Linked DNA regions of Homo sapiens. The protein of the gene in region 3 interacts with the protein of the main gene of each other region in a pairwise test. Each region holds a gene or a part of one and is shown on either strand. Other genes may lie near its edges.

Region 1 (4,408 bases), on a different chromosome or scaffold from region 3:
TTTCTGTTGCCCAGGCTGGTCTCAAACTCCTGGGCTCAGGCGATCCATCTTGGCTTCCCAAAGTGCTGGGATTACAGGCATGAGCCACCACACCTGGCCCTGTTTGGATATTTTTTAAAAATTAGAATAGAATCTAGACTTTCAAAGAAGACAAATTTGGACACGCTTCATAGATAGATGCTGAGTGGTGAGGGCATCTCAGGGGAAGATCTACCCTGCTCCCCTGAGCTCACATGTGGAACTATGGGCATGTCTTTTGCCAATCTTTCCAGTTCTAGAATGATCCTAGCTGTTACGTCTCCTTGATCTATTCAACAACTATTAACTGATCCTTAACTGCGTGCCAAGGCCAAGAATCTCCTGTTAGATTCTCTGACTTCCTATTGGAAGAAAAGTCCGCTCTACCCCCACTACTGAGCAGCACAGTGAGGTCTGTCTAGCTAGGGAGACACAAGAGGAAGCTGGCCATTAGGACAAAGGCCCTAGAGTCTGGGGTGGGTGTTCTGGAGAAACAGACCAACCTCCACCTCCCTAATATGCTTTTGATGTTAGGGTTCAACTCTCTCTTAGGTGCTTCTGGCCCTAAAAAAATGGTATTGTCGGCCAAACACGGTGGCTCACACCTTTAATCCCAGCACTTTGGGAGGCTGAGGCTGGTGGATCACTTGAGATCAGGGGTTGGAGACCAGCCTGGCCAAAATGGCGAAACCCCATCTCTACTAAATATACAAAAATTAGCCGGGTGTGGTGGCTGGCATTTGTAGTCCCAGCTACTCGCGAAGCTGAGGCAGAAGAATTGCTTCAACCCAGGAGGAGGAGGTTGCAGTGGGCCAAGATCTCGCCACTGCACTCCAGCCTGGGTGACAGAGCAAGACTTCGTCTCAAAACAAACAAAAAACTCTACTGAGGAGAGAATCGCTCTGGAACCCTATTTTCGGCCGGGCGCGGTGGCTCACGCCTTTAATCCCAGCACTTTGGGAGGCAGAGGCGGGCGGATCATGAGGTCAGGAGATCGAGACCATCCTGGCTAACACAGTGAAACCCCGCCTCTACTAAAAATACAAAAAATTAGCCGGGTGTGGTGGCGGGCGCCTGTAGTCTCAGCTACTCGGGAGGCTGAGGCAGGAGAATGGCGTGAACCCGGGAGGCGGAGCTTGCAGTGAGCCGAGATCACGCCACTGCACTCCAGCCTGGGCGACACAGCGAGACTCCGTCTCAAAAAAAAAAAAAATAGAACCCTATTTTCCCAGGTAGTTCCTGCCTGCATCTCTGCTTCAATTCTGACTTTTCGCCCGTTTGAATGGAGGAACGTTCCTTCTCCAGGCAAAGGCCTTTTTTTGTACTGGATCTTTTCTTTCATTATACATGATCTAGCATTTCCTACCTTTGAAAAAAGAAAAGAAATAATCTTTTGACCCTATTTCCCTTACTTCTCTGCTTCTCTTCAAAATGACTACTGGAGTTATCGGTACTCACCTTCATCTCCCATTTCCTCTCCAAACCCAATCCAATCGGTGCCTCCATGCACTGAGATGTCTCAGGGTCCTCTCTCTTGCCAAATCCAAGACCATCTCACTTGACTTAGCAACCTGACACAGTGGATCACTGTCTCCTTGAAGCACTTTCTGCTCTGGCTTACAGGGCATGACATGCTCCAGGAGTTCCTCTCACTTTACTCTTTTGTTCATTTCTCCTTCTATACTGGACCTCTAAATACTGGAGTGTCTCTGGGACTGGACCCTTTCTCCTCTTCTGGTGTCTCTCCATGTGACTGCACCATTATTTCCCATGGATTCTAATGCCAATTATATGCTAATGACTCCAAATTTACATCTCCGGCCCTGTTTTCTCCCTGGTTCTGCCTTTATATATCCAACTGCCTCAATATATTCACTTGGATGTCCACAGTTACTTCAAACTCAACAGAGGAAAACATGTTTTAAATGGCTCCCCTAGCCCCAAAACTTACCCCTTGCCAAGTCTTTCCCAATTCAATAAACATCACCACCTTCCATCAATTTTCTCAAGGCAAAGTCATCTTTCATGTCTCTGTTATCCCCTGATCGAATTCATTAGCAAATCCCGAGGGCTTCACCTTCAAAATATATTCTGGGCCGGGCGCGGTGGCTCACGCCTGTAATCCCAGCACTTTGGGAGGCCGAGGCGGGCGGATCACGAGGTCAGGAGATCGAGACCATCCCGGCTAAAACGGTGAAACCCCGTCTCTACTAAAAATACAAAAAATTAGCCGGGCGTAGTGGCGGGCGCCTGTAGTCCCAGCTACTTGGGAGGCTGAGGCAGGAGAATGGCGTGAACCCGGGAGGCGGAGCTTGCAGTGAGCCGAGATCCCGCCACTGCACTCCAGCCTGGGCGACAGAGCGAGACTCCGTCTCAAAAAAAAAAAAAAAAAGAATATATATATATATATATTCTGAATCATCTCCATTTCTACAGCCCTAACTCAAGCGACCATCATCTCTTGACTGGACTATTGCAGTAACTTGCTGACAGGACTCACTGTTCTGAGTCACTTCCCTCCATCTTAAGTGTTTCCACTTAGTGGCCAAGTTCTCTTTTAAAAATGTAAAGCAGATCGTATCATCCCATTCCTGGCTAAGACCCTCTCCTGGCTTTCTACCACACTTAACATGAAAGCCAAACCTCTTGGCTGGCCTACAAGATCCACTGTAATCTGGCCTCTGCCTGCCTCAGAACGTTCTCTTGCCAGGGTCCTCCACGTGCACTTTGCTGCAAACACAGTGGCCTCTGTTCTGTCGCTCAAACAAATGAAGCTCATTCTCACCTCTGGGCCTTTGCAGTTGCTGTTGCTTCTGCCTGGTATGCTCCTCCCTCAGATCTTGGATGGCTGGATCCTTTTCATTATTCAGGTCTTAGCTCAAATGTCATCTTCTCAAAGATGACTTTCCTAACTGCCATATCTAAAATAAACTCCCTTCAAGACCAGCCTGGCCAACATGGTGAAACTCCATCTCTACTAAAAATACAATAATTAGCCAGGTGTGGTGGCGCATGCCTGTAATCTCAGCTACTCGGGAGGCTGAGGCACTAGAATCGCTTGAACCTGGGAGGCAGAGGTTGAAGTGAGCTGAGATTGTGCCATTGCACTCCAGCCTGGGCAACAGAGTAAGACTCTGTCTCAAAATAAAATAAAATAAACTCCCATCCCACCTCCTCTCTGTATCATATTATTATATCGTGTTCATAGCATTTATTGCCATCTGAACTTGTGTTGTTTATTTTCTGCCTCTCTCCGTTAGAATGTACTCTTCATTAGGGCAGAGATGTGGTCTGTCTCATTCACAGCTGGTCCTCCAAGTATAAAGGCACCTCATAAATAGGTGATAAATAAATTAGTCCCATTTTACAGATAAGAAATGACATCTCAGAAAGATAAGTGACTTGCCCAAGATCACACAATTTCTAAGTGGTATAGCTGGGCCCAGGAATCTAGGTCATCCCAGATCAATGCCCACACTCTTCCCTATGTGACACGTGTCCTGCCACTTTCCTCCTCTGCAAGCCCCTTCACTGACCACCCTTCCTGTATCTACCTTTGCTTACATTTTCTGTCCCCGTCTCCTCTCCTCCCCACTTACACCTCTGCTTGCTCCTGTCCAGGCCTGCTTCCTGGCCTTCCTTTTTTTTCTCCATTTATACTTTTCTTTTGGCTTGATCTCAGTTCTCCCCAGAGTCCCTGCCGTTTTCTAGGGCAGCTCCCCTAAACCTTCCGGAGGCCCACAGAAGTAACAAAAGCTGCCTCTTTATTTGGTGGTGTGGTGGAATGTGGGGCATCTGCCTTGCTGCTTCCCAGAGACAAAGGGACGTGGGTGTTGGCAAAAAGGGATTTGGGGCCCACAAGCTCAGGTCCCAGGCAGCAACAGAAGTGCTGTCATCTGTCTCTCTTAATAGGTGCAGAGAGGCCCCACCAGTCACTTCTCATTGGCTTCATGCTTTCCCATGCCATCCTTGGAGGAACCAGAAAAAGGAATCCGGCTTGGAATTCAACTTGGATCACCCACCCCTGGCACTGACCAGGAGAACAAAGGGACAGGGATGCAGTATGAAGGAGGAGGCTGAAGGGGCAAGAGGAAAGAGCCCACCAGGGACAGGAGGTGACAGGGAGGCCAAGAAATGGAAGGGGAGGACAGAAGAGCCAGGTAGATGTGCAAAGAAAGAAAACTGGGGACAGAGGAGGATGGAGAGACAAGGAGAGGAAAAGGGTGAGACTAGTAGAGGAAAATGAGGTGAAATTACTGAATTTGGTTATTTTTATCTGCTGTGCTTCAGTCAAACCCTCAGGAAAAAAGTACTTAGGTGACCACTTGGATGGCCACCTCCCTCCAGTCCAAGTCCTGGGAATTACCTTGGAGCTGCTGGATCTGCTTGG
Region 2 (4,408 bases), on a different chromosome or scaffold from region 3:
CTGCTTCCTTATCTAGAAGGTGAAGTCCTCACAGTCTCAACATTTTATGCATCTCAGGCTTCAAAACATCCCTCAGTCCTGGGCCAGGCATGTATACTCAGCTGTGTGCAACAAAAGCCTTCAATGGCTTCCCACTGTACTTAAAAGCCAAATCCAGCTGGGCGTGATGGTGTGCGCCTATAGTCCCAGGTCCTCAGGAGGCTGAGGGGAGAGGGTTGCTTGACCCCAGGAGTTTGAAACCAACCTGGGCAACACAGTGAGACTCTCAAAATAACTGAAAAAGCAAAAAACAAACAAACAAACAAACAAACAAAAAACCTCACTGGGGAACAAAATAAGGGGTAGCATCTGGCACTGTCTCCATCAGAGCCAATCATGCAGTGGAGTTCTCTGTTCCCGGGATGATGCACACAGCTAGGAGACCCAAGCAGCCTCCCCCTCCAACTTCCACTCAGATATTTCTAAATCAGAAAGCTGAGAACGAGATCATAATGCTAGTCCCTATAGGGTCAAGCCCTGGGGAAATAACAAAGCAAACCATTTTGGTCAAGTTTAAGCATATGAAACGGCCAGCTGCCATTAGAACAGAGGAAACGGAATGGGGGGATGAAGGGGAGCTGTGATGCAGGCAGTTTACCCATTAGAACAAAAAGAGATGGACGGAGCTGCCTCTCCCCAGCACCCCGCCTTTGGAACTCACAGCAGGATGGGCTGGTCTGAGGTGATAACATTCCCATTCATGTGAAGGTTGCACTTCATCGGCTGCCCTGAAAAACCAAAGAAAGAAAAAGGCTCTGCTATGAGACCTCGGCTCCTCACACAAGAGGACAAGGGCTGTACCTCCATTATCAATGGTCAAAGCACCCACCACTGGCAGTTCTGGCTCCACAGATGGAGATGGGGCTGCTAGGTTCCAGTCAAGCCAGACACTAAGAAAATCCCAGGGCGTGAGGAAACCTCAGCAGTGGAGCACCAAGAGGCAAAGTGGCCACAAACCTTGCTTCATACAGGAAGAGATGAGTGGGAAGTGAGGGAGAAACGAGACTCAATGTGAAGCCATCCAAGTAGTAAGGGAAAAGGTTTATGCTATCAAATTCAGTGAAAAGATGATCAAAAGCATTATGTACAGGCTTCTACTCTGTCTACAAAGGATGAAGCACTAGGAAGACCACACTCCCACTGTATACAAAGCATAACATGTGTAACGGTAATAGCACAAAAAAGAGGAAGAAGGAACAGGGCCATGTGGGAGTAACATTTCCATATCTTACTCGAGTTAAGTTAGTGAATACATCATTAAAGGAATTAAAATATTGGGGAAAAAATGTGAAAGAAAAGCCACTGAAGAGGAACAAAAAAGTAAAATGGGGCCGGGCGCGGTGGCTCACGCCTGTAATCCCAGCACTTTGAGAGGCTGAGGCGGGTGGATCACGAAGTCAGGAGATCGAGACCATCCTGGCTAACATGGTGAAACCCCGTCCCTGCTAAAAATACAAAAAATTAGCTGGGTGTGGTGGCGGGCGCCTGTAGTCCCAGCTACTCAGGAGGCTGAAGCAGGAGAATGGCGTGAACCTGGGAGGTAGAGCTTGCAGTGAGCAGAGACCACATGCCACTGCACTCCAGCCTGGGCAACAGAGCGAGACTCCACCTCAAAAAAAAAAAAAAAAAAGTAAAATGGAAGAAATAAACCTAATTATCAATATTAAATATGAATGGATTAAATAATCCAATCCAAAGACAGATTGTCAGATTGAATTCAAATAAAAAAAAAACCAGTAAGATCTAACTATACACTCTCTATAGGTGACACATTTTTCTTTCTTTCTTTTTTTTTTTTTTTGAGATGGAGTTTCGCTCTTATTGCCCAGGCTGGAGGGCAATGGTGCGATCTCGGCTCACGGCAACCTCCGCCTCCTGGGTTCAAGCGATTATCCTGCCTCAGCCTCCGGAGTAACTGGGATTACAGGCATGTACCACCACACCTGGCTAATTTTGTATTTTTAGTAGAGATGGGGTTTCCTCATATTGGTCAAGCTGGTCTCGAACTCCCAATCAGGTGATCCGCCTGGCGGATTACAGGAGTGAGCCATTGTGCCCAGCCTAGGAAACACATTTTTACAGTTGATGAGAGAAAAAGATTGAAAGTAAGAGTGGGCCAGGCTTGGTGGCTCATGCCTGTAATCCCAGCACTTTGCAAGGCTGAGATGGGCAGATCACTTGAAGCCAGGAGTTTGACAGCAGCCTGGCCAACATGGCAGAAACCCCATTTCTACTAAAAATACTAAAAATTAGCTGAGTGTGGTGGTGCACACCTGTAGTCTCAGCCACTCAGGAGGCTGAGGCACAAAAATCGCTTGAACCTGGGAGGAAGACGTTGCAGTGAGCCAAGATCATGCCACTGCATTCCAGCCTGGGCGACAGAGCGAGACTCCGTCTCAAAAAAAAAAAAAAAAAGTGAACAAAGATATATCACTCAAATAGCAACCCTAAGAAAGCTGGTCTTTTACTTATTAGCTTATTAGCTATTAGTAATATAAAATGAAATATACTTTAAAACAACAAAAAAAGTGACTAGAGGTAAAGAGAGATTTAAATTTGACTGAAGGGTCAATTCATCAGGAAGAAAACAATCAAACATATATGCAAGTAACAACAGAACCTCAAATATATAAAATAAAAATACACAGAAGTGAAAGGAACAGACCAACAGTAATAAAGATCTCGCCGGGTGCAGTGGCTCACACCTCTAATCCCAGCACTTTGGGAAGCCCAGGTGGACGGATCACTTGAGGTCAGGACTTCAAAACCAGCCTGGCCAACATGAGGTCAGGAAATCAAGACCATCCTGGCTGACACAGTGAAACCCCATCTCTACGAAAAATACAAATATTAGCTGGGCGTGACAGTGGGCACCTGTAATCCCAGCTACTTGGGAGGCTGAGGCAGGAGAATTGCTTGAACCCGGGAGGCAGAGGTTGCAGTGAGCTGAGATCATGCCACTGCACTCCAGCCTGGGTGACAGAGGGAGACTCCGTATCAAAAAAAAAAAACAGAACCTCAGTATTTCACTTTCAATACTAGATAGAACCAAGCAGATCAACAATGAAACGCACTTAAACATTACAAAGCAACAAGACATAATAGACATGTACAGAACATTCCACCTAACAACAAGAAAATACATATTTTCCTTAAACACTCATAGAAGAAAAGAAAATCTGGAAAATTCATGAATATATGGAAATTGAAACAATCCTAAATAACCAATGGGTCAAAGGAGAAATCACAAGGGAGATTAGAAAATAATTCAAGATGAATGAAAATGAAGGCATGATATACCAAAACACGGAATGCAGTTACAGCCATGCTTAGAATATATAGCTGTAAATGCACATACAGTCATGTATCATTTAACCATGGGAATACATTCCAGAGTGCAGTGGCACGATCACAGCTCACTACAGCCTCAACTTCCCAGGCTCAAGTGATCCTCCCACCTCAGCCTCCCCAGCATCTGGGACTACAGGCACACGCCACCACGCGCCCAGCTAATTTATTTTTTGAGACAGGGTCTTGCCACGTTGCACAGGTTGGTCTCAAGTTTCTAGGCTCAAGCGATCCTCCTGCCTCAGCCTCCCAAAGTGCTGGAATTACAGGCTTCAGCCACCACACCCGGCTGTACAGCATGTTACTCTACTGAGTAGAGTAGGCAACTGTATTTGTACATCTAAACGTAGAAAAAATACAGTAAAAATATGGTATTATAATGTTATGGGCCCACTGTCATATATGTGGTCTGCTGTTAACCAAAAAGTCCTTATACTGCATATGAATACATTAAAAAGCAGAAATAAACCTACAGAATGGGAGAAAATATTGGTAAATCACTTATCTGATAAGGGACTTAAGAATATGTAAAGTACTTCTACAACTCAGTATTTAAAAAGCAGACAAAGATTCTGTACAGGCATTTCTCCAAAGATAGCTGGGCACAGTGGCTCATGCCTATAATCCTAGCACTTTTGAGAGGCCGAGGTGGGCAGATCACCTGAGGTCAGGAGTTTGAGACCAGCCCGGCCAACATGGTGAAACCCTATCTCTACTAAAAATACAAAAAAATTAGCTGGGCTTGGTGGCGTGCACCTGTAGTCCCAGCTACTTGGGAGGCTGAGGCAGGAAAGCCGCTTGAACCGGGGAGGCGGAGGTTGCAGTGAGCTGAGATCACGCCACTGCACCCCAGCCTGGGCAACAGAGAGAAACTCAAAAAAAATAAAAAAATAAAAAAATAATAAAAAATAAAAATAAAAAAAAGAAAGAAAAAGGAAAATAAGTATCTTTCCACATCCAAACATATGACAAAAAATAAGAAAAAACAAAAAAAGAACAGAAATTCAAAACAAAATTAATT
Region 3 (4,408 bases):
ACACGCCTGTAGTCTCAGCTGCTCAAGAGGCTGAGATGAGAGGATTGCTTGAGCCCAGTAATTTGAGGCTGCAGAGAGCTGTGATCAAGCCACTGCACTCCAGCCTGGGCAAGAGAGTGAGACCCTGTCTAAAAATTTGAAAGGCAAGAACAGAGAAGAGGAAAGGAATAAAGAAGTACAGTAAGGAAGGGAATCTAGGCAGCAATAGATGGAAATAAAAGTGTAAAGCTAACAATGCTCTACTATCAGGAAGTTTGGCCTGAATAGCTACTCTTCTGAGTAGCTTTTCTACATTCTTTCAGTTAACAAGCAGCTGAGTGGGAAGTGCTTTTAAAGTGTTCTTGGACCTGCTTGTTCCTGTTTTTAGACATGGAGAATTCAAATCAATACGGCCAAGACTATTCCTAGTAACAAACTATAATAAAGCCATGTATCCATAACCATTTGTATTGGTGCCACAATGGAGTGGGACATGTTAGATTCAAATATTTTCTAACTAAAAAAAGATTTTGATGGGTAGAAGAAAAAACTTACTTGCCTCCCAACATCAAACCTTCCCTTCTTTCTGACATACTCTGGTTTTTATTAGTAACAACATGTCCAGTTAGCTTCCCATCCCTTGTAGGTAGGGGTGGTCATGCTATACAATGTTAGTCAATTGAGGCCACTGGCTTGAACTTCTGGAAGAACTCTTTAAAGAGGACTGACTCATTTGGCACATGCCCCCTTTTCCACTATCCTTCTCCTTATTACCACCTTTTACATGTACACAATACTGGAGGCAGATAAGCTATCTTATGATTTCAGGTGAAAAGCATATGTTGAAAATAGCTAAGGTTAAAAGGAGCCTGGGTTCCTAATGCGATCAAGGAGTAATCACTTGAGGTCTACTAAAATACCTATTTTTGGATTTTTGTTATACCAAAGAAACAAAATCCTTCTCTTGCTTAAGCCATGGTTTCCAGGTCTCTGTTACCAGAAACCACCATTTTTCAAGTCTCTGGTATTAACTGCTGAACTTAATCCTTGAAACCCTGGGCAGTTGGTTCAATCTCTTTCCAAAATAGAAATACCTATAATATTTATTAACAGTTGACTATTCAGGACTACTTAAATGCTTCCAATGACAGGAAGCTCAGAAACTTAAGATCAGGCCATTTCAATGTTAATAGCAATAACAGGCTTACACTGAGCAGAAATCTACCTTTCCTGTGACTTCCAACCATTATCATGGAGCTATAGTCTAGTGAGGAAAATTTATTTTTCATAACGTTAGCATACGATGCTCAATAAGCTTTGGAGAATGAATGACCAATTAAAAATACCTTTCTTTCAAGACCTAGGCTTTAAGTTTCCTGCCCAGGCTAAAAAGTGTATGGCATGGCTGGGTGCAGTGGCTTCACACCTGCACTTTGGGAGGCTGAAATGGGTGGATTGCTTGAGGCCAGGAGTTCGAGACCAGCCTGGCCAACATAGTGAAACCCCCATCTCTACCAAAAATACAAAACTTAGCTGGGCGTTGTGGCACGGGCCTACAGTCCCAGCTACTCGGGAGGCTGAGGCACAAGAATCGCTTGAACACAGGAAGTGAAGGTTGTAGTGAGCTGAGATCATGCCACTGCACTCCAGCCTGGGCAACAGAGTGAGACTCTGTCTCAAAAAAATTAAAAGAAAAAAAAAGTATATGGCAGCACTACCAAATTGAGCCCCTTTCTTCTTCACTTAAAAATTCAGAGAGGATGCTACCAGATAGATTTGAATCAAATACCGCGTGGTGTTACCAGATCCATCAGGCTTTTGGGGACCCTGTTCATTTCAAAATACCCCATGAACCTTCTTTGCTTTCTTCTAGAGCTGGACCTCATTGAAACACCAAGAAAACAAACAGCTCTAACACCAGGAGTCCAATATACTTCTGAGTCCTCACAATCGACCAGAGGGACAAAATTCAGTGGGGTGTACTAGCTTTAGAATCACTGCTCACAAGAAACAGTGTAGCACTTTGTTCATCTGGAGTGCTTCACACATAAAGACAAAAATAAAGACATAACTAAACATATAATAACACATACAAATAAAGGTGTTATTTTAAAACATATAAAGAAATATGTCACATACCAATTTATACATAAACAAATAAGTGAAAAAATATATATCATGTGTGTAGTGCTGTTTGCCTGTCTAAGGTGTTATTCCCAGGGCATGTAAGAAGTAAACATATATATACACACATACACACATTAACATACATATACATATTCTTTAATAAAAATATTTTTTAAATATTCTTTCATCAACTCCAGACTCACACTTTCTCACATTTTAACATCTCTAAAATTGGAATGCATTTTACAATCTAAGGCACTTAACAATTCAACTGGAAGTGTTTAACCTTAGCAATGTATGTAATGATGCATCTTACAACAGAGGTGCTTTAGGTTCAATAAATTATGGAAGGCTAACTCTACAATAGGTATTTCTTCATATATTTGAGAGCAAACATCTTATTCCTAAAGAGTCTTCAAGCAGAGAATCCTGAGTGCTCGTATGATAGAGAAAAAAACTCTACTAATATACAGCAGGGCAGCTATTTTGGAGATAACCTGGCAGTACACTTAGTTAAATGAAGGAGACATTTATATATGTCAAAGACATGCTCACAGAGGTCCAGAAGAGAAATGTCTAATGCTGCATGTGTTGCAAGGAGCTGGAGGCAATCTGGATGCCTAGCAATGTAGGAGTAGAAAGACTGGTAGACGCACACAAAGAATTACATAAGAGTTGGAAGCAAAGGACTAGATGTATACAAAGTAATAGATAACTTCAAAAACAGTGCTGAGTAGGAAAAAAGAGATGAGAACTAAAACAAAGCATATAATTTACATTTCTGTAAAGTTAAAAGATACACATTCTCAAGAATACATGTAAACAAAACATTAAAATGTTTGCATTAAGAAATGGAATGAGCTATAGGAATGAAAAGAATAAATACATTAGAAAAACAGCAGCCTTTCAGGGATCAATGATGATTATGTGTCAAACTCAGGAACACGACTATTGCAATCTTCTACATTTTCAGTCAAACTAGAAAACCACAACAAAAACTACACTAAGCACCATGGAAGTAGAAAAATAATAATATTGTGCTGAGTAAGTATAGCTACAAATAAAATAATATGTAAATAATAAGTTTATTATTAGTATACACCAAGCATCTATGAGCTTACATACATTGATTAATCCTCCCGATAATTCCACGGAATAAATACTATTATCATTTTATAGGAAATCACGGAATAAAAACATTAAGGAATTTAGTAAGGCTGGAATTCAAAACCCAAACTGTGTGCATCTAGAACTGTAATTTGGATTTGTTACACTAGAGAGCCTGTCATGAATCAACCAACATTTCTATAATATAAAGCTTACACCTAAAAAGAAGCAAAGCCATTGACAACCAAGGACAATGCAAGTTGAAAACAAATAATACAAGAGGTGGCTGAACAAAATGTAAGTCTGGATATGGTATACAGGTGGCACTTAAAAAAATACTTGTTGACTGAGTGGGTGAATTAATGAATGGGAGATAACCTCAGGTTTCTTCAATGAGTTGCACTAAGGTCTGGAGAGGTGAAGGTAGATGGAGTTCATGTGAAATGCAAAAAGAGTAAGGGAATAGGGATGGGAAACCACTGGATGCATGGATAAACTACCAAGTGACCTAGACTAGGTAGGTGACTGTATAGGGTACCTAAAAGAAAGTGTTTGGAGCTTCACTTGTGTAGAGTATAGGCTTTAGACTTCCTAGGTTTGAATCCTATCTGGCTCTATCACTTTCATCTGAATGGCCTTGGGTATGCTATTAACCACCTAGTGGCTTTGTTTAATCAGAGCAAAATGGGGTTCAGTCATTCATTTAAGAAATAGCTGGGCACTTAATTTGTGTCAGGCACCGTTCTAAGTGCTGGAAATACAACCATGAATACAAAAACATCCCCGTCCTCATGGACCTCATAGTCTATTCACAGACAAATAACAAACAAATTCAGTCCGATGGCCATAAAAGGCACAGAAAATGAAAGGGATGAAACAGATAAGGATGCTATGTTAGTTGAAAACAACAACGGCTAATACGTCTTGTGTGCTTATTTTTTTTTCTCCCCTCAAAATTTGTATATTGAAACCTAATCACCAATGTGAGTAGCAGGAAGTTGGGGCCTTTGGGGTGATTAGGTTATAAGGGTAGAACCCTCACTGTTGGGATTGGTGCCCTTATAAAAGTGATCCCAGAGAGCTAGCTGGGCATGGTGGGGAGCACTTGTAATCCCAGCTACGTGGGAGACTGAGGCAGGAGAATTGCTTGAACCCAAGAGGTGGAGGTTGCAGTGAGCCAAGATTGTGCCACTGA
Region 4 (4,408 bases), on a different chromosome or scaffold from region 3:
GCGTCAGCTCCAGAGCCTGTGCTCTTACCCACCACTACACAGCACCCTGGGAGGGCTCACTAAGTGAACCTAAATGCTCTTCCCACCTTGCACATACAAACGAGTCTTGCCTGAAAGGTGAACTGGAGTTTTAGGTGACCTGAGTGCCAGTCGGCGGGAAGACCCTAGTGAAGTGAGGGGAGGGGGTACAACATAAAGTACCAGAGGGCATGGGCTCTGGAGAGCTGGTCCAGCTTCTTGCTGCCATTCCACTACTCATTGGTGGTATGGCCTTGGTGAGTGACTTCCCCTCTCTAAGCCTCTGTTTCTTCATCAGTGTAATGAAGACATTAACTCCCACCTCACCAGGTTGCTGTGAGGACGAGAGATGATTCTTGTGCGGTTCCAAACCAGCCCCAGCCCGGGCCCCACAGACTTGCTAGTATTGGCAGCAGTGACGTCCATTGTGCCAACCCAGTAGCTGAGACACCAGGGGGAAAGTGGGAACAGTGCACATCCTCCCATGCACCCACCGAGGAGGGCCAGCTGCTGAGGAGGCAGAGCGGCAAGGTCACTCACCTGAGTGGCTCTTTGAATGTCTTCTTGGACTTGGCTTTCTTCCCAGGTTTGGTAGAGAAAGGGGCGACTCCGAGTCCAAAGTTTTGTCCTTCAGGCTCACCCACTAGGTGGCCATCAACATCCACAAGCCCCGCCTACATAGAGAGGCCAGCCAAAGGTCTGTGAGTTAGATTAAGGGCTTGGACCCCTTGGGGACCCACATGTATATGGCCCAAGGCTCAGGGTGGACATGTTCACCATACACACCAAGGTTTGACAGCTGCTGATGCCAGCCTCAGGCTGTCCCCTGTAGAGCGGTCCCTGACCACTCTGCCAAATGTCCACTTTCCACATGCACCCCCTCACCAGTATGGCACCTCATTCCATACTCTGGGGATCTTAAAGCTTATTTCCAACCTAATTCCAGGAAATCGTCTTTAATATTATTATCCATGTCTCTACCTTATGGAAATTATTTTTAATTCAAAAGTGGTTTACTCTTAACACAGGTCACCTGTGTTCATTCTGGTGTTACCTTTATCTGTTGCAATCCTAGCTCTGGTTTAATGCATTAATACTTGCTGGCTCTGCAAAGGTCTGAGGATGGGAAATCTGAGGTGAGTGCTGTCGGCAAGTAGCAACTATGCTTACCTTCTGGATAGCAGAAATGGCTGCAAAGTCATTCCTGTCAATGAGGGTGTACTTCCTGCGCAAAGTGGACTCCACTTCCTGTTCCTGTTGGCTTGGGAGACAGCAAGAGAGAACAGCTTGTACCTGGGGCCATGCTGAATCCACTGGGGCAAGAACCAAGTACTGGGGTTAAAAGTCATATGGGTGAGGCCCCTTGTGTGGGGCCACACCTTCATCATGAACCAGACCAGACAAAAGGACAAAGGACTCACTTCCCCCTGCCCCATTGCATATACCCACTGTCCGACCCCCATACCCACAAGGGCTACCTTATGTCATGTGTGTCTGCTCCAAGATGACACTTGATAAGGACCGTAAGCTTCACTTGGGACCATGTGGGGTTCTGTCTTAGGTTCTGTCTCTAAGAGGCCACTTGGAATCACATGACCAGCTTTAGTGACACCACCTAGCATAAGCTGCTCAGACTATGGGTATGTTTGCACCCAAATAAACCACAAATGCCTCCTGAGGTGGGAGTGTGTGTTGCAATATTCACAAGGTGAATATTCACAATGCCCTGCTCTGGGCACTCTCAGAGCTGGCACTCCATAAACACCTCCTGTCCAATTAATGAACTCACTGAATATCCACCAGGGACCCAGGCATGCCCCCAAGGACTCTGATTTGGCTCTTCATCCACAAGCAAGAAGAGGAGCTCTTGGAGGCAAGTGCCCAGATGGCAGGAGATGAAAATGGCAGCCTGATGTAGGAATGAGGTAGGGGTGGGGGTCTCTCACCTCAGAACCACCCGGAACTGGTTGAACACCTCCTTGATCTGTCTAAGGCTGATTATCTGGAGGGAAGACAGCAAGGCAGAGGTTAGACCAAGGGCACCTCGAGGGACCAGGGGGCATCTATGTTAGTAGAGAAATCAAGACCCCTTGGCTGACCCCTGGACCATCTGTCTCGAGAAGAGGACGTGTGCACACAGCCTCTCAGCGAAGTGGCAGCCAAGCCCTCCTCCAGAGCAGAGAAACACCTGATTAATAATTTTAAAACTAAGTATTTGCTGAGGCTATAAAAACCACCTTTTCGAAGTGGAGACCTCTATAAAATGAAATGATTCTATACCTTGAAAATACCTTCTAAAGGTTTTTTTTTTTTTTTTAATAAAATGTACTTCTCAGCTTTCTCTTACTTCCAAAAGGTTCTGCCTGCTGTCTTCAGATGGAGCCCATTTATGGTCCTGTCTGCATGGGCACAGACACACACACGAGGCTGGAGGAAGGTTACTGGCCTCCCCCCAGCCTAAAGCCCACAGCATTCCCCTTGATCAAGGGTTAATTTGGGACTGCCCCTCCTGTGAAGGCCAGAAGAGTCCATCCCTTAGTTGTCCCAGGCCTGCTTCTCGGAGCTGCCCACAGTAACAGCCAGGGGGGTCTGCCCATGTCTCCAAGAAGAGGGGTTTGATGGACTGCACTGTGAAAACAGGATGCAGCCTTCCCCCTGAGGACCCTTCCTTGTGGGGTGGTTTCCCCCTCCTTGGCCCACTCCAACATGGGCCCTGGGGTCTACCTTGTAGACAACCAGCATGACCACCATCCTTCATCAGCTTCATTCTGCGGACACAGTCAAGCACCCCAGGTGCAGCAGCTCAGTTAATCCCCACTCTGTTTCCCTCCCCACTAGGCAGGTGAGGCCACTGAAGTACACGAGGTTGAGTATTTTGCCAAGGTCACTCAGCAAAGAGGCAGCTGAGCTGGGATTCAATCCTAGAAAGCCTGGCTCTAGGGCCTGTGCTTGTGCCCCTGAGATGAGCTGAAGGGACCCTGACATCAAGAGTCCAGCACCACCCTCCACCCACTGCACCCATTCACATGAGGCTCTGAGGCCAGCAGAGCATGCGTTGGGGTGTGCCCAGGACTGGGAGGCCCAGGCTGGCTGAGCATAGTGGTCACAGAGGGGTTCCTTACGTCGATCTCGTCCAGTGTCCCCTCCAGGTACCTCCGCACCTGGGAGTTGATCTCAGCAATCTGGATTTCATCCATGGGGTCATAGGTCACAAAGGTGCGGTTGGTCTTGAAGGAGGATGAAGAACATGTGGATAAGCAACAAGAACCTGAGCCCACAGGGGAGTGGCAGGGGCCATTCTGAGAGGCAAAGTGGGGAGGCTGGGCACAGGCCCTGGCTGCCCAAGCTGGCTCCTTCCCTTCATCATCGGGTCCTGCCAGAGGGCCTGACACAACAGGCCAGGTGCTTGGGTCAGAGAGGGATAATGGGGTCGGGGAGGAAAGGAAAGACCCTCAGACATGGGTCCTGCTACTCCAGACAGAGGCTCTGCTGGCTGAGTCCCAGCAGACTCTGCAGCATGAGAAAGGCGAGGACGGGAGGCATGCGCTGCCTCTGCCTCGAGGCCCCTCAGGACCGTTGGAGGACTCTGCTCCCAACCCCTGTCCTCATGGACCCTTGCTGCTGCCCCTTTCCTGCCACTGAGCCTGCCCCCCAACCCCGCCCACCATTGGCCTTGACCCATGATGCTGTCTGCCCCTAGCCCCAGTCCCTCTAGTCACCCCCTACCCCAGCACCTCTGCCCTCCTTCTTTGCCTCTAGCCTCTTACCAGGCTGTCATGGATAGCCAGCTCCTGCTTGAGTAGTGCTAGTTCCTTCTCCAGGTTCTTGACCATTCTCTGCCGGGAAACATGGTAGGGTGGGGGCCGACAGGAAGGATCATCAGAGAAGCTACCCTGTCTCTTCCACAGCAAAAGTACAATTCCTCATTCTGTGCCCAGACATCCTGGCCATTCCTGGATCCACAGGGTATGCTTTCAGCTTCTGGTGATTCCCTCCCGACTGGTGACTCTTCCCTAACTGGGGTGAGTTTAGGGTCTGGGAGGACCTGAACAGTCCCCTGGCCTTTGCTACTGCCAGTAGAAGAGACAGCACAAGCCACACAGCCACCTCAAACCCCAACTCCCAGGGGCCCCAGGCTCCTTCCAGTCTACCAGGATAATGGCCCTTTTGGTGCAGCCTACAGACTCCAGAATGCTTTCTTTTTTTTTTGAGACAGAGTTTTGCTCTTGTCGCCCGGGCTGGAGTGCAATGGCATGGTCTCAGCTCACTGCAACCTCCGCCTCCCGGGTTCAAGTGATTCTCTTGGCTCAGCCTCCTGAGTAGCTGGGATTACAGGTGACCGCCACCACACCTGGCTAATTTTTATAATTTTAGTAGAGACAGGTTTTCA
Region 5 (4,408 bases), on a different chromosome or scaffold from region 3:
ATCCAGTAACTAAGAAAAGGCCTTAGGCAGAGGCTGATCAATATCTTAAATTCCTGACCAATTCTGAAAGCTTTCCTAGCACATAAAACCTTCAATCTCTTTTTAAAAATGAAGTAATTGTTTCAGATGACATCCTGAATTGGCGAATTTAACACCTGTGTACTTAACACCTCTTCCTAGCCGACAATAAAAACAGCACATGTCTTAGTGGTAACAGACTTGGGTTTGAGTCCCAGCTGCTCAGTTATCACAGCTGTAAAAAGAGGACATTAATAGTATCCACTTCACTCGTTATGATGCGAAATCAAGAGACAATGTAGTTTCCAGTTCCTGACGGCAGAATGTACACATGTTGGCTTCCCATCCCTCCCCAAATTACATTAAAGATTAAGAGTACAAAAAAGGAATAAGTCCACACCAGGAAAAGGTGAGGGTAGGCTCATCACTTGATGAGAGATTTATACAGATCTGAAAGTTAGAAAACAAATTCAAATGAAAAAGAACAGTGACAGCCACAGCCAAAAAATACATTATGGAGGACTAGGATGGAGGCTAAGCTTATCTGCCCATCAGAACCCTTGGGAGAAAAGAAGGATGAGGTCTCAGGGAAACAAAGGCAGAAGTAAGAAGAGGGGCAGAAAATGGGGAAACTAGTGCCTTCTCCACTCTATGAACACAGAGTATAGATAAGGAGAGTACAGATACTGAGGCAAAAAGATTCCAAGGTTTTTCTAGAAATAGCACAAAGCTAATGGAAGATCTAAGGCTGTAGTGTAGCTGCTGGTGCCCAGACAAAGCAATCCTCATTCTGAAATTTAAAGAATCTGTGGCCTGTTCACTCCCAATCCATTCACCCTAAGTCATGGTTCCCAAACCGTGTGTGAAATTCACCAGTTCAGGATACCATCTGAACTTAGAGCACCACAGCCAACTCAGAGAGGCATGTGGAGTATTTTAAATTCGAAGGAAACACAGTAACATCTTTCAGATACCATGCAATCTGCTATCATTAGGTTGTTTGGCCCTAACTATGAGGTATTTCTTTTGGACCAGGGGTGAAAATTACTAAAATATGAAATGTGCTGTGATCCATGAAAGCTTGGGAACCTCTGCTCTACAAAGCATGCCCCACCTATAACCAACTTCGTAGTCTTCTTACTCAAAGAAGAGGTACATTGGAAATAGATCTATTTCCTCAATTAAAACACCATACACCAGTTACTCCTTCTTAAATATAAGTGGACAAGCAAGGAAGGATCACCCACCATGAGGAAGAATAAGAGCATATCAGAGAGACAGAGAGACTCCCTCCACCCCTGGAAACATATAATTCAGGGAAAAGAGAGGAAAAAAACACCCTCTCACCAGTATACCTAGAGATCTGAGATTATTATATTTACCCCATAGACTGCTATGATAAAGGATCACTCAGAACAAGAAAGAGCTTTTAGAGACTAAAGACATGATTACTGAAATTTAAAAAAACAAATAAACCAAAGAATAGTTTGTTTGTTTTTCTTCCTCATGTTGGGTGATCCTTCCTTGCTTGTCCACTTATATTTAAGAATGAATAACTGATGTATGGTGTTTTAATTGAGTAAATAGATCTATTTCCAAGGTACCTCTTCTTTGAGTAAGAAGACTACGAAGTTGGTTATAGGTGGGGCATGCTTTGTAGAGCAGAGGTTCCCAAGCTTTCATGGATCACAGCACATTTCATATTTTAGTAATTTTCACCCCTGGTCCAAAAGAAATACCTCATAGTTAGGGCCAAACAACCTAATGATAGTGATGAAAAAGTTAAAGGAAATTTCCCAGAACATAAAGCAAAAAGACAAAGAAAGGAAAAAAGAAGAGACAGGCATAATCCAAGAAATCCAAAATCCAGTTAAGAGGCATCCCAGAAAGAAAAAATAAAGATAAGAAGCGAAAGGAAATTATGGAAGAAATTAATGGAAAAAAATTTCCCAAAACTAAGGTAGTATATGAGTCTCCAGATTATAAGGATCCAACAAGTACCAAGGCCATTAAAAGACCCACACTTAAGCACATTCTAATTAAATCCCAAAATACCAAAGAAAAAGTTCCACAAGTTCCAGAGAGCAAAAATGGTCACCTGAAAAGAGAATTACACCAGAATCAAATTTTTCATCAAGACTGTAGGCCTGAAGACAATGAAGCAGCGTCATCAAAGATATGAAGAAAGTTACTTTAGATTTCCATACCCAGTCAGAGGATGAATAAAGTAAAAGAGACTAAATTTATATTTAGATACGCACAAATTACCCCCTTTTGCACCCTTCCTTGGAAAATACTTGAGGATGTATTAAATAGTTCCTAAAATAAGCGAGAAAGAAATGCAGGCTACACAAAATAGTGGATTCAATCCTAGAGATGGGGTGAAAGTAAGTCCCAGCATAAGAGTAGACAAATCCAGATTGGAACAGGAGGATGGAAGAGGTCTAGGTTTTAGAGAAGGATTCCATGAAAGTGTGTTTCAAAAGACTTTTCTGTGTTTTTTCAGAAAAACCCGAAGCCATGATGAAGGAATATTGTTATTTTGACAAGAGTGGGGGAAAGGCCATTATAAACTCTAGGACAATAAAAAAGCAATACAAAAAAAGGCACTGTCCAAATAAGATAAAAACAAAAGCAGGGCCTGACTTTAAGCACTTGATGGAATACAAGAAAAGATTCCATATGACTGTGAGGTTAGAAAAATTTCTCCCTTTGAACAGACAAGCAGTTGTGACACTGGACCCATCAAGTATGATTTATAATCCTAGCATACTACTTAACTCTTCTGAAACAATATTTACTTAGTTATAACTATGTAATGTCGTTTCAATTTTTTAGAGACAAGCTACGGACAAAACACTCAAGATCTGGTTGTAGAACAGTGTGGGTTTTAACAGTCTCGTAAATGTAAAAGTAGAACATGCAGTTGACAAAGGTATGAGGTGGAAGTTGGGCCTAAAAGCTAAAACTTCTCATAAAGTGGTCTGTTGATGTGGGAGAGCACACCAGACAACCTCAGGAAGTATATACTAGGGCCAACACACAAAATTCAACATCTTAATACTTTCTCTTTTAAATTTTTATTTGTTTAGTTTTTGAGACAGGGTCTTACTCTGTTGCTCAGGCTGGAGCGCAGTGGCGCAATCTTGGCTCACTACAACCTCCGCCTCCTGAGTTCAGGTAATTCTCCTGCCTCAGCCTCCCAAGTAGCTAGGAATACAGGCGTGCACCACCAAGCCTGGCTAATTTTTGTATTTTTTGGTAGAGGCGGGGTTTCACTGTGTTGGTCAGGCTGGTCTCAAACTCCTGGCCTAAAGTGATCTGCTTGCCTTGGCTTCCCAAAGTGCTGGGATTACAGGCGTGAGCCACCACGCCTGGCCCGTCTTAGTATTTTCTTACACCCTGCATCCGTATTGGGCTGAATAATCCAAGCATCTTCCAGTAATATACAGACACTAAATTCTGATATGCATTTTCCGATAAAGGTTTGCCTTAAAAACTTTCCATTCCAGTCCACTCATGTAGTCTAGGAGTTGGTACACTTTTTCTGTAAAGGTCTAGATAGTAAATATCTTTAGCCTTCTGGGCCAAAAGGCCTCCAAATAATTTTGTTGGCATCCTAGTAGGCAGTGTCCTACTTGCCAGCCTCAGCTTACCACACTTGAGCAAACTTTTCCACCATCCAGTGGGCTACAGCCACACCTCCTTCAACATCATCTGAATCTTAGCTTGGGAAAGGGGTGGGGGCACCTATTCCAAATTTGTTCCTTCTGTGGCTATTCTGCCTCAGCCTTAGAAGTACTGACTACTACATGTATTTTCTAGGGATCTCTTTACCTTAGCGTTTTGTCCTCAGTAGTTAATTCTCTGTGCCTTGTTAATAATGTTTATATTAAATTTCCTGTATTCAAATTGCTGTGTGATTTCTCTCCTTCAAATGCACTGTGACATATATTTCAATAATTACGTTAAATATAAGTGGTCTAACTACTAATTGAAAGGTTAGATTGTCCTGTTGGACAAAAGAAGCAAGACTCAACTATATGCTGTTTACTTGATATCTGTTTTAAATATACACAGGTAAAAAGTGAAAGGAGGGAAAATAAGATATCATTCAGACATTTATCAAAAGAAAGTGGCTGATGGATACACTACAATCCCAGACTTCACCACTACTTGTTATATACATGTGAGAAACCTGCAGCTGTACCCCCTAAATATAAATAAATAAATGTATATATGTATGTATGTATGTGGTAGTGGCTAAATTACTAGGGATAAAGAAGGATGAACATTTTGTTATGATAAAGGGGCCAATTCATCAAGGAGACATATTTACTGCATGCTTACATTCTAGACATTGTGCATTTGTTTGTTCTCATATTTGTCA
Region 6 (4,408 bases), on a different chromosome or scaffold from region 3:
AAATACATGAACATGTTCCAGGAAACAAACCAAACCAAACAACTATTTTCCATATACTCCTGGCTTTTCCATATACTCCAGAACTTCGCTTCTGGAGGCGAATGTTCTCAACAGCTACACAGAGTTCTGTAAAACCCCCAAATGTGACATGTGCCTGTGGCTGCTGGCATCCCTTTTCCCTCCAGGTGAGCCTCACATAACATTTACACTGGATTTAATAGGAGAACATGACATGCACTGATTTTCAACAAACTCCTGATCTTCCAGGAGAGAGTCGGGAAAGAAAGCAACTGCACACCAAATCCTCTTCTATTTTGGTACCCTTAACACATTCCCTTATCTCCCTGGCCTACATATCATTTAACAAACTGCCCTGCGATTCTTGCAGGGCGTGGCATCATGACTGATTTAAAATCCCCACATTGCTAAAACTGCATTGTTCTTCATCAAGTTGAGTCATTTTTATGTGAAGTGTCAAGCTCCCTAACAAATAACTCCTGCCAGACAAATCAAGTTCCTCGTCTTAGAGCCGAGGCTAAATAGTTTATAGCTTTAATCTGCTCACCGAGGTGTGCAGTCTATGACAGTAATTATAAATGCAAGGAGAAATTATAGCTGAATGCTTTAACTGCATTAGGAGCCGTTTGATGAACAATCATGAACGCCTGCTCATTTCCAACAATAGAGGGCAAGTTAGTGTCAATGCGTTAGAGAGATTTCAGTTCTGCATGGCTTTTTCTCCCATTTACCACAGAATGTCACTTGTCTCCTAGAAAGTAGAAAAAAGCATCGTGGAAAGCTTTAAACTTGATAGTTAAAAAAAGAAAAAGACAAAGAGAAATGCAAGGAAAACTGTTTATCATTATGACTTCTTTTTCTCTGTTTGTTTGGTGGCAGGTTGGGTTTCAAATTAGCTCAGTGAAGGTAACTGCTTGTTTACTTACTAGAGGCCTTAAAAAAAAATCCTCCCCAAGCCATTTTTGAGAGATCTTTATGGAGAAAGACTTCTCTGCAGGAAGGGCAAGTTCAAGATCCTCACAGAGAGCAGCTCTGGCGATTGTGTGTCCCTCCACCAGATTCTGCTCCTCATCTGCAACCACCTAAGCTAATGACACAATTTAGCTCTTTATTTTCCCCTCCTCACTTTCGCAAAGACGTTTTTAATTTAGCTGAAGAATTACACAAATGTATTTTAAAGACATAAATCCATATAAAAAATATGAGCTAATTAAAACATTGCACTCCCTGTCGCTCATGGATTTTCAATTTAGCGAAAGAAAAAAGAATTGCATCTGGTTAAATGAAAAGATGATACTGATGGCAGATTGGAGTAAATGAAAAATAATGTTACTCTATATTAAAGCACCAAATTATACACGTCAGGATTGAGCATTCAAAAGTCCAAATGAGGGGGGAAGGTGCAATGGAGGCTGAGATGCATAGACGGAGTTAAGCCAAATATTTTTGAAAAAATGCAAACGTTAAGGAAGACGATGCATTTGTTTCTTGCTGCTTGAGAGATGCTAGATTATTGTACTTGACCCTGTTTCCTCAGTTCTCATTTCCTTTCCCTAAAATGAATTCCTGAGGGTCAGAATGAGGATGTTCTTTTTTAATATTAGGTGTATGTATTTTCACTGGAATTTGGGTCATTTCTTGGTTAGACACCATATGGCAAATGTATAATTGCCTGATTGAACAAGAGCATTAAAAGAAAGAGAACAAGGATGTTCTGCTTCACCCTGCGGGTCAGTCCTGGGCCCCTGAGTTGCAATGTTTGATAGCTGGAGCCTCCAAAAGGCCCAGGAAAGTGTCCTTTCTCCTCTCAGCTCTTAGGCCACATTTTACAGCTTTCTCTCTGGGCTGTTGGAGGTACATCCAGCCATGAGTATTACCTAGAAACCATCAGGCAAGGAGGAGGAAACCAAGGAGCAGGAGAAAGTTGATGAGCATTGGACAGTCCTGGGTTCAAAACCTACCTCCAGGTTTAGTTTTGTCTTCTTGGACAAATCATGAAACTCTTTGAGCTTTGGTTTACCTCTCTGCAAAATGAGGATAATATGAATAATTATGCCTGAGTTATAAAAAGAGGCCAGTCAACGGTAGTTTCACTGTCATTGTTATCTGAATCAAACAGCAGGTTGAGATTTTGCAGGATTATTAATTAGTTAGAGTTGAGAAGTTGCTGCAAGTTCTCTACGCTGCAGGTGAGGCTACAGAGCATGGTAAGAGCATGTAGTGGCTCTACCTAGAACTTGCTTTTCTTATAGACCTACTATGTGCTTTCTTGTAAACCTACTATGGGCTTTAAGGAAAATAATTACATACATTTAATTCTTACAACCTTCCTATGAGAAGGATATTATGTCCACATCATAAAGATGTAGAAGTGGGGCATGTCTTCATGAAAGCAAGTGAGTTGGGGGTTAAATCCAGCATTCTTTTCCAAACACTGCCTCTGAGACCACTGTTCCCCATCCCGGCTTCCCCCAGAACCAGGCAGAGCCACCTCCTGTGTGCTCCTTTCAGCATTTCCCCTAGAGTTTTTCATCTATTTGTCTGCCACTAGCCTCAAAGGCAGACTCTTGTCCTGGTTATGGCTTACTCCCTGGGAATTAGCACAGTGCTTGCTGTGGAACGATGGCTTTCTAGATATGTCATAATGAATGAGTGAGGCTCAGAGATTGTAGGACCTTGGGGAATTCAGGCAGAATCTCTCTGCCTCCATTTTCTCTTCCCTATCATGAGTGAATCAACCTCTACTTCATACGGCTGTTTGTGAGAATAAAGCAAAATAATGTTTGCAAAGTGCTTGCTGCAAGGCTTGGCATGTTTTGCTATTACAATTGGTAGAACTTCTGGTTCAGTATTATACTTCCATTGTTAAATATAATAGAGTCCGGTGCATAGTAAAAGCACAACCAGTATTTGTTGAAGGATGAAAGGAATGCAGGGAGGGAAGAAAAGAAGGAAGGAAAGAAGAAAAAAGGAAGGAAGGAAAGAAGGGAAAGAGGAAGGAATGAAGGAACAAAGGAGGGAAAAGAGGATGAAAGGAAGGAATATTTATTTAATGGAGGAAGGAATGGTTGATGCCATTAATAGATATTAATTTGTCCAGGCTATTTTGTTCTTCCCAACTGCCATATAATCTATGCTGTTAGGGTTGCCAGATTTAGCTAATAAAAATACAGGATGCCCAGTTAAATTTGAATTCTGATAAACAATGAATATTTTAAAAATATAAGTATGGCCCATGCAATATTTGGGCCAGGCTTATACTCAAAACCTATTTGTCATTTATCTGAAATACACATTTAACTGGACATCCGTTCTGTATTTTGTCTGGCAACCTTACGCGCTTTTCACCCTGAATATGTGTTTTTATCAAGCCGCCCACAACAGAAGTGGCAGCTCATTGGACTAGAATACTTTCCTGCCAACAATTTCAAGGCTAGGTGTGCTGTTAAGCTTGTACACTATATTACACAGTGATGACTATAATTTCAAGCCTTTATGCATTTCAGACTCATTGATTTGCTCTCTGTTTAATTTCTATTAGTCAAGAGCATGTGGCTTTTAAAGCTATATACAAATACATATTGAAATTGTTTTAGATTACTTATGACCTAAAATAGAGATGCACACTTAATATTTTCTAATGAAATTTTTAACGAAAAGTTGCATTTAATATTTGGCAGAGCATTTTGCAGGATTTAAGATATATCTGGTAAAGGAAAGAAAATTCAGATCAAAAGTTGTGTCTTTCAAAAAACATTGATAGGTTAAAGCTCTCATAGTTTCCAAGAAATCTTGATCATACTTTCTAAAATATCATGTCACTTTGCACAATTTGTGCTACTATGCATTACAACTAAGATTAGAGTTCCAGACAACAGTGATGTCATTTCATGACCATTTAGAAACCTTACATGCATCATTCTAAGCAATGGGCAAGGTATTGCATAAATATTGTTCTAAAAGAGGACCCCGGGGGTGGAGGCATTTTTTTCTAAGGTGACCAAAGCACCAAGAATCGACCTTTGTACAGATGGGGGAAACATTCAGGCAGATAGGAGTATTTTTACGATGAACACAAACACAGCCAGTACCTGCACCATCTTTTCTGTTTACAAAACATACATACACGCCCATGGCTTTGAGTGAGTCCCAAACACTCAAACCTGTTTTTCTGCAATCCTCTCAGAACCACAGCCTAATGGTGCTTGTAAGGATGGAGCTTTGGTTTTGTATAATGAAAACACCAATACGGTGCTTTCGAGGTCCAAATTAGATATACTCATCCTGTACAAATGCAGAGAAGTGCCAAAATGGCTATCTTATCTATGTATTTAATGGATTTGGAAGTACCTTTTGTATATGTTTTTCCAAATTATTGGTTCACCTTTGA
Region 7 (4,408 bases), on a different chromosome or scaffold from region 3:
CAGTACAATGAACCTCTACAGTTCACAGTGGTTCACTTTTGGGACAAAACCACATAAATGGGATGAACTAAAAAGTGAGTAATACCAGAGAGCATATGGAGACTTCTAGACTGAATATTGTCTTCCAGGGGATCAAGGTCGAAGATGGAGCCAGGATCTGTGCGCCAAACTTTGAGGTCTTTTGCCAAAAGGAAGAAATCAACACTCATCAAGAAGGAATTTAAAAAAGGAAAAAAAAAAAAAAAAGCCAGTACCCAAAAGAGTCAAGACAAAGTCTGCAAAGGAATAGATATAAGAAGCAAACATGTAACAGACAAACTCACAGTGCTGCTGACTTCAGAAGAGAATGAAAAAATACTTGCTTTCACAAGTATCTGTTAAGAAATCTTTGTAATCAGATTGAAGTTGCCTGCTCTATTCATTGAGCTGCCCTATCAGACCTTGCTGAAGTACCTGTGACCCATCACACAACACAGGAGCACATGGGGCAGCTATATGCATCCCCTCACAGCACCCCTGAATCCCCAGTCACTCTTGCTCTCCACAGGCTGAAACAAGCAAAATGTTTGATTATAGTTTCTGATTCAGGACATGTGAGTAATTCATAGGAAACAATTGAGAAGTTTATGTTTAAAAAACAAAACAAACAAAAAAAAAGTCCCTTTCTATAACAGAAATGAATATTTAAAATGTGGAATGGTGGCAAGCCTAGTTTTCATTCTGAGTCTGTGAGTGCAAGCTAAGTGTATCTTAGGGAATGCATATCTTATTAGATACACTTATTTAAAAAGTGTTATAAGCAAGGCACACAGCAAGGAAATATGATGAATGAAAAGAGAAATAATATCAGCTTCCTGCTGTCAATGGATCCCTGCCATAGTCAGTGATCAGACTGTGCAAACCACTTTATTCTCCTCTTATTTTAATAACTTCTGAATTCACCAGTCTCTCCAACAAAAGGGCATCAGATCCTAAAATAAGCTGTTTACAGCTGTACCAACAACTGGAAAAGAAAAACCTAGTTATAGACATACGGCAGAAATGGGGCTACAGCAAAAACAATTAATTTGTAAAATGGAACTGGAAATTTGCTTGTCTGTTTTTAATTAATATTATGTAGTGCTGACCATATGCCAGGCACTCTTCTCATTTAACACCTAATTAATTTAAGTTTCATACATATTATCCTCATTTTGTAGATGAGGAAACTGAGGCACAGAGAAATTGAGTAGCTTGGCCAAGGTTACACAGCTCGTAAGAAGTAGCAGAGCCTCCAACAAAAATAGAAGCAGCACAAATTGGCTTAATCTGAATTACTCAGAAAATCTCTAAACGTGTATTTTCATGCCTGATACAGAAGCTGGCTCATTGGAAAGTTTAATGTTGGCCAATTATGGAAATTTCAATGGAAAACAGTTCTTCCCAATAAGAACAAATAAACTGACTTCTGGATTGCCAAGTAAGTAAATAACTTAGAGTCATACATCTTATATTTTATAAAACAATCATAATTTCAACCTCAATGGTTTTGAGTACTGAATTCTGAGAGCCCACGGTCTAGACAGTTTCATGGTTTTTAGCAACGACCTCACCATCATTCCTGACCTCTGATGTGTGCAGGGCCTGGAAGTAAGCTGTACAGACTTTAGCAGTTCCACCCTAAGTGAGATAAATCAGAACCCCTGCACTATCCCTTAAGATAGTTCCATCCCTTTAGCACAAAGCAATGAAACTCTAATTTGGTGTCACATTGAATGAAAACATCACAACTCATCCATCCAACTTAATGTGATCCTTTTAAGTAATCAACTCAGGCAGATCAGCAAAGCTATCAATTGCCTACAAACATGTTTGGAATCCTTCTTCAGAAAATACTTCCAGAGTCACTTTAGTATAATCATCCAAGTTACTTAGTGCTGCTCTGACTTTAGCACCCTGGTTTTGTAAAGACATTACCCTGTCAAATTTAGCTTATCTCTAAATGGCCTTTCACTAGTACCAAAAAATAAGCTCCTACTTTTGAAGATGAAGAAAACCTAACACTGATATTACTGAGTGGCATATACCAAAAATATTCTTTAAGCTACGTAACTACATAATTCAGAGGTTAACTGCTCTGAAGGAGACAATAGTCTTCAGTTGTTGATACAGACTGAAAAATCAATAATCATCCTTCCTAGCCCTGCCTTATACTTCAGTATGATCTTTTCTGATATCTCAGCCACCATTCAACAAATATCCTTCTAGGATTTCTCCTGACTATAAGGAACAGATAGCAGGAATAAAAGTTTGCTCTCTTAATTGCAAGACTTTCAGATGGCTCTCAACTATTCCAGTCCAGAAATAATATTTTTAAAATGAGCTATTACTATTATGGAGTACCATCAGAACGCCCATGGCGTGTCTGTTTTTGATAAAAGGACCTAAACGCAATATGGTTATTTCTGCCACTTATGCACATGAGGTCAACAGAACAACACGTCAACCAAGCAGAAAAACAATTATTTTGTTTTTCTTTTTAAAGAAAAACAAAGTAATTGTTCAACCATTGTGATCACTCATATCTCTGCTGCTTCTTTGCTTAACAAGGAGGAACATTCTTTTTTTTATTATTATTATACTTGAAGTTCTAGGGTACATGTGCACAACATGCAGGTTTGTTACATACGTATACATGTGCCACGTTGGTGTGCTGCACCCTTAACTCGTCATTTACATTAGGTGTATCTCCTAATGCTATCCCTCCCCCCTCCCCCCACCTCACAACAGGCCCTGGTGTGTGATACAAGGAGGAACATTCTTAAAATTAGCAAGGTATTAAAGACAGAGCTTCCAATAATAGAAAAGACTTGAGATGATACCAGGTGAATGCCAGAAATCCCATTCCACATCGTACAAAAATAATACTTTACCTGCGGTCCATTTTAAATTGGGTACCACAACCAACATGTGATGAGGAGTCAGATGACTCAAGAGGGTAATTCTGAAGCTAGAGCAAGCATGATCTTTTCGACCACACACACCGGCCGACAAACGCCGTCAGCTTACCAACAATGATTCCAGGTCTCCTGTCCATCTCCACGATGTGAGGGTGGACCCCTTTATAGGCAGCATCGCTGACCACCTGGGTGTTCTTCCTCACTCTCTCTGTCACAGGATCGTCCACGACGGGAGTAAAGCCTCTCCCCTTTGTTTTTTCAAAATCTTCATGGTATTTTACCTGAAAAAGGAAAAATCATCATACTGAATTTTGCGGATAGTTACCTCTTTCACAACATTTTTATTAAATGACAGGTGTACACTGCACTGGCTGCGTGCAGATTGTCTACATGTATGTATCTTTTCCAAATACTCCAAAACTAAAGTCTGGAACTTCAGTTTCTTAGCATCAGAAATCAAGTGCTGATATTTTCACAAAGTTTTTAATCATTATAGCTCATATCTATTTTAAATTATATATAAAACTATATATATATTATTAATGAGAGCTTGTAAAAATACATATTCTCAAATCCTGGTTACTTCCTAAAATATACTAATTTAAATATAAATTAAATTTCCTATCTCTTCAACTTCAGTATGCAATAAAGTGATATCTATTTCCAGGCAATCATTCATGAAAATGGCATTATTTAAAATCAGTTTGAAATTTTATAGGTAACAATATATACCACTTTTAATATAATTACAAAAACTTATACTTCAAAATATACTTTTTTTATGTCCTGAAATTAGGTCCAGGAGATAGTTGTGTAACTGTAAATTATACTAGAAACCATTGAATTGAACACTTTAAATGGGCAAACTTTATGGTAGGTAAATTACATCTGATAATATAATTTTTAAAACACACATTTTTAAAAACACAGCTTTAAAAACACACTTCTTTTCATATCCTTTATGACAGGCAAACAGACCAAATTTTGTCTTAGAATTAATTGGAAAGAAGTCTACACAAATATCTTTCACACTATGAGTTTACAGTAGTCACGTTAGAAATAAAGACACACCAGAAAAAGTCACTGAGAAAAATCATTTTATTAGACTAAATGTTTCCACTGCATTTCAGTGTGATTAGAAATGCCCCTCCCTCAAAAGACAAGCCAACCACATTTCCATGCTTTGTTAGTTATCGGATTAATAGTGAAGTAATGCCATCCGTGCACTGGATCCGCCCATTCCTTAGCATGTTTTAAGAATGATCTGGTTGGACCCTACCATTGAAATATGATTTTGTGCTTCTTTAACATGTCTCATAGCAGGTGTATCTAAAATCAGACTTGGTCTACCTTTCATCTGTTTATGGTCCTGGGTATATTTTACCTGCAAAGTAAATAGTAGGCATAAGACAATGATAAGAAAACACATGATGTAACATTTTTAAGCTTTACAAATGAGTGAAACATAT

The links.
Region 1: the proteins of PIBF1 (region 3) and CCDC136 interact in a two-hybrid assay, tested with the Homo sapiens proteins (one large-scale study listed by BioGRID).
Region 2: the proteins of PIBF1 (region 3) and POLDIP3 interact in a two-hybrid assay, tested with the Homo sapiens proteins (one large-scale study listed by BioGRID).
Region 4: the proteins of PIBF1 (region 3) and KIF9 interact in a two-hybrid assay, tested with the Homo sapiens proteins (one large-scale study listed by BioGRID).
Region 5: the proteins of PIBF1 (region 3) and GMCL1 interact in a two-hybrid assay, tested with the Homo sapiens proteins (one large-scale study listed by BioGRID).
Region 6: the proteins of PIBF1 (region 3) and TSHZ2 interact in a two-hybrid assay, tested with the Homo sapiens proteins (one large-scale study listed by BioGRID).
Region 7: the proteins of PIBF1 (region 3) and NEBL interact in a two-hybrid assay, tested with the Homo sapiens proteins (one large-scale study listed by BioGRID).

Annotation. Positions count from the first base shown.
Region 1 is NC_000007.14:128,794,745-128,799,152, reverse strand, and holds part of CCDC136 (coiled-coil domain-containing protein 136), read right to left. Parts: coding exon 4,385-4,408; intron 1-4,384. UniProt on the Homo sapiens protein: May play a role in acrosome formation in spermatogenesis and in fertilization.
Region 2 is NC_000022.11:42,586,806-42,591,213, forward strand, and holds part of POLDIP3 (polymerase delta-interacting protein 3), read right to left. Parts: intron 768-4,408; coding exon 701-767; intron 1-700. UniProt on the Homo sapiens protein: Is involved in regulation of translation. Is preferentially associated with CBC-bound spliced mRNA-protein complexes during the pioneer round of mRNA translation. Contributes to enhanced translational efficiency of spliced over nonspliced mRNAs.
Region 3 is NC_000013.11:72,784,926-72,789,333, reverse strand, and holds part of PIBF1 (progesterone-induced-blocking factor 1), read right to left. Parts: intron 1-4,408.
Region 4 is NC_000003.12:47,244,233-47,248,640, forward strand, and holds part of KIF9 (kinesin-like protein KIF9), read right to left. Parts: intron 3,855-4,408; coding exon 3,786-3,854; intron 3,246-3,785; coding exon 3,141-3,245; intron 2,021-3,140; coding exon 1,965-2,020; intron 1,280-1,964; coding exon 1,189-1,279; intron 693-1,188; coding exon 559-692; intron 1-558. UniProt on the Homo sapiens protein: Essential for normal male fertility and for progressive motility of spermatozoa.
Region 5 is NC_000002.12:69,832,323-69,836,730, reverse strand, and holds part of GMCL1 (germ cell-less protein-like 1), read right to left. Parts: intron 1-4,408. UniProt on the Homo sapiens protein: Possible function in spermatogenesis. Enhances the degradation of MDM2 and increases the amount of p53 probably by modulating the nucleocytoplasmic transport.
Region 6 is NC_000020.11:53,258,640-53,263,047, reverse strand, and holds part of TSHZ2 (teashirt homolog 2), read right to left. Parts: intron 1-4,408. UniProt on the Homo sapiens protein: Probable transcriptional regulator involved in developmental processes. May act as a transcriptional repressor.
Region 7 is NC_000010.11:20,809,721-20,814,128, forward strand, and holds part of NEBL (nebulette), read right to left. Parts: intron 4,324-4,408; coding exon 4,219-4,323; intron 3,221-4,218; coding exon 3,049-3,220; intron 179-3,048; coding exon 86-178; intron 1-85. UniProt on the Homo sapiens protein: Binds to actin and plays an important role in the assembly of the Z-disk. May functionally link sarcomeric actin to the desmin intermediate filaments in the heart muscle sarcomeres.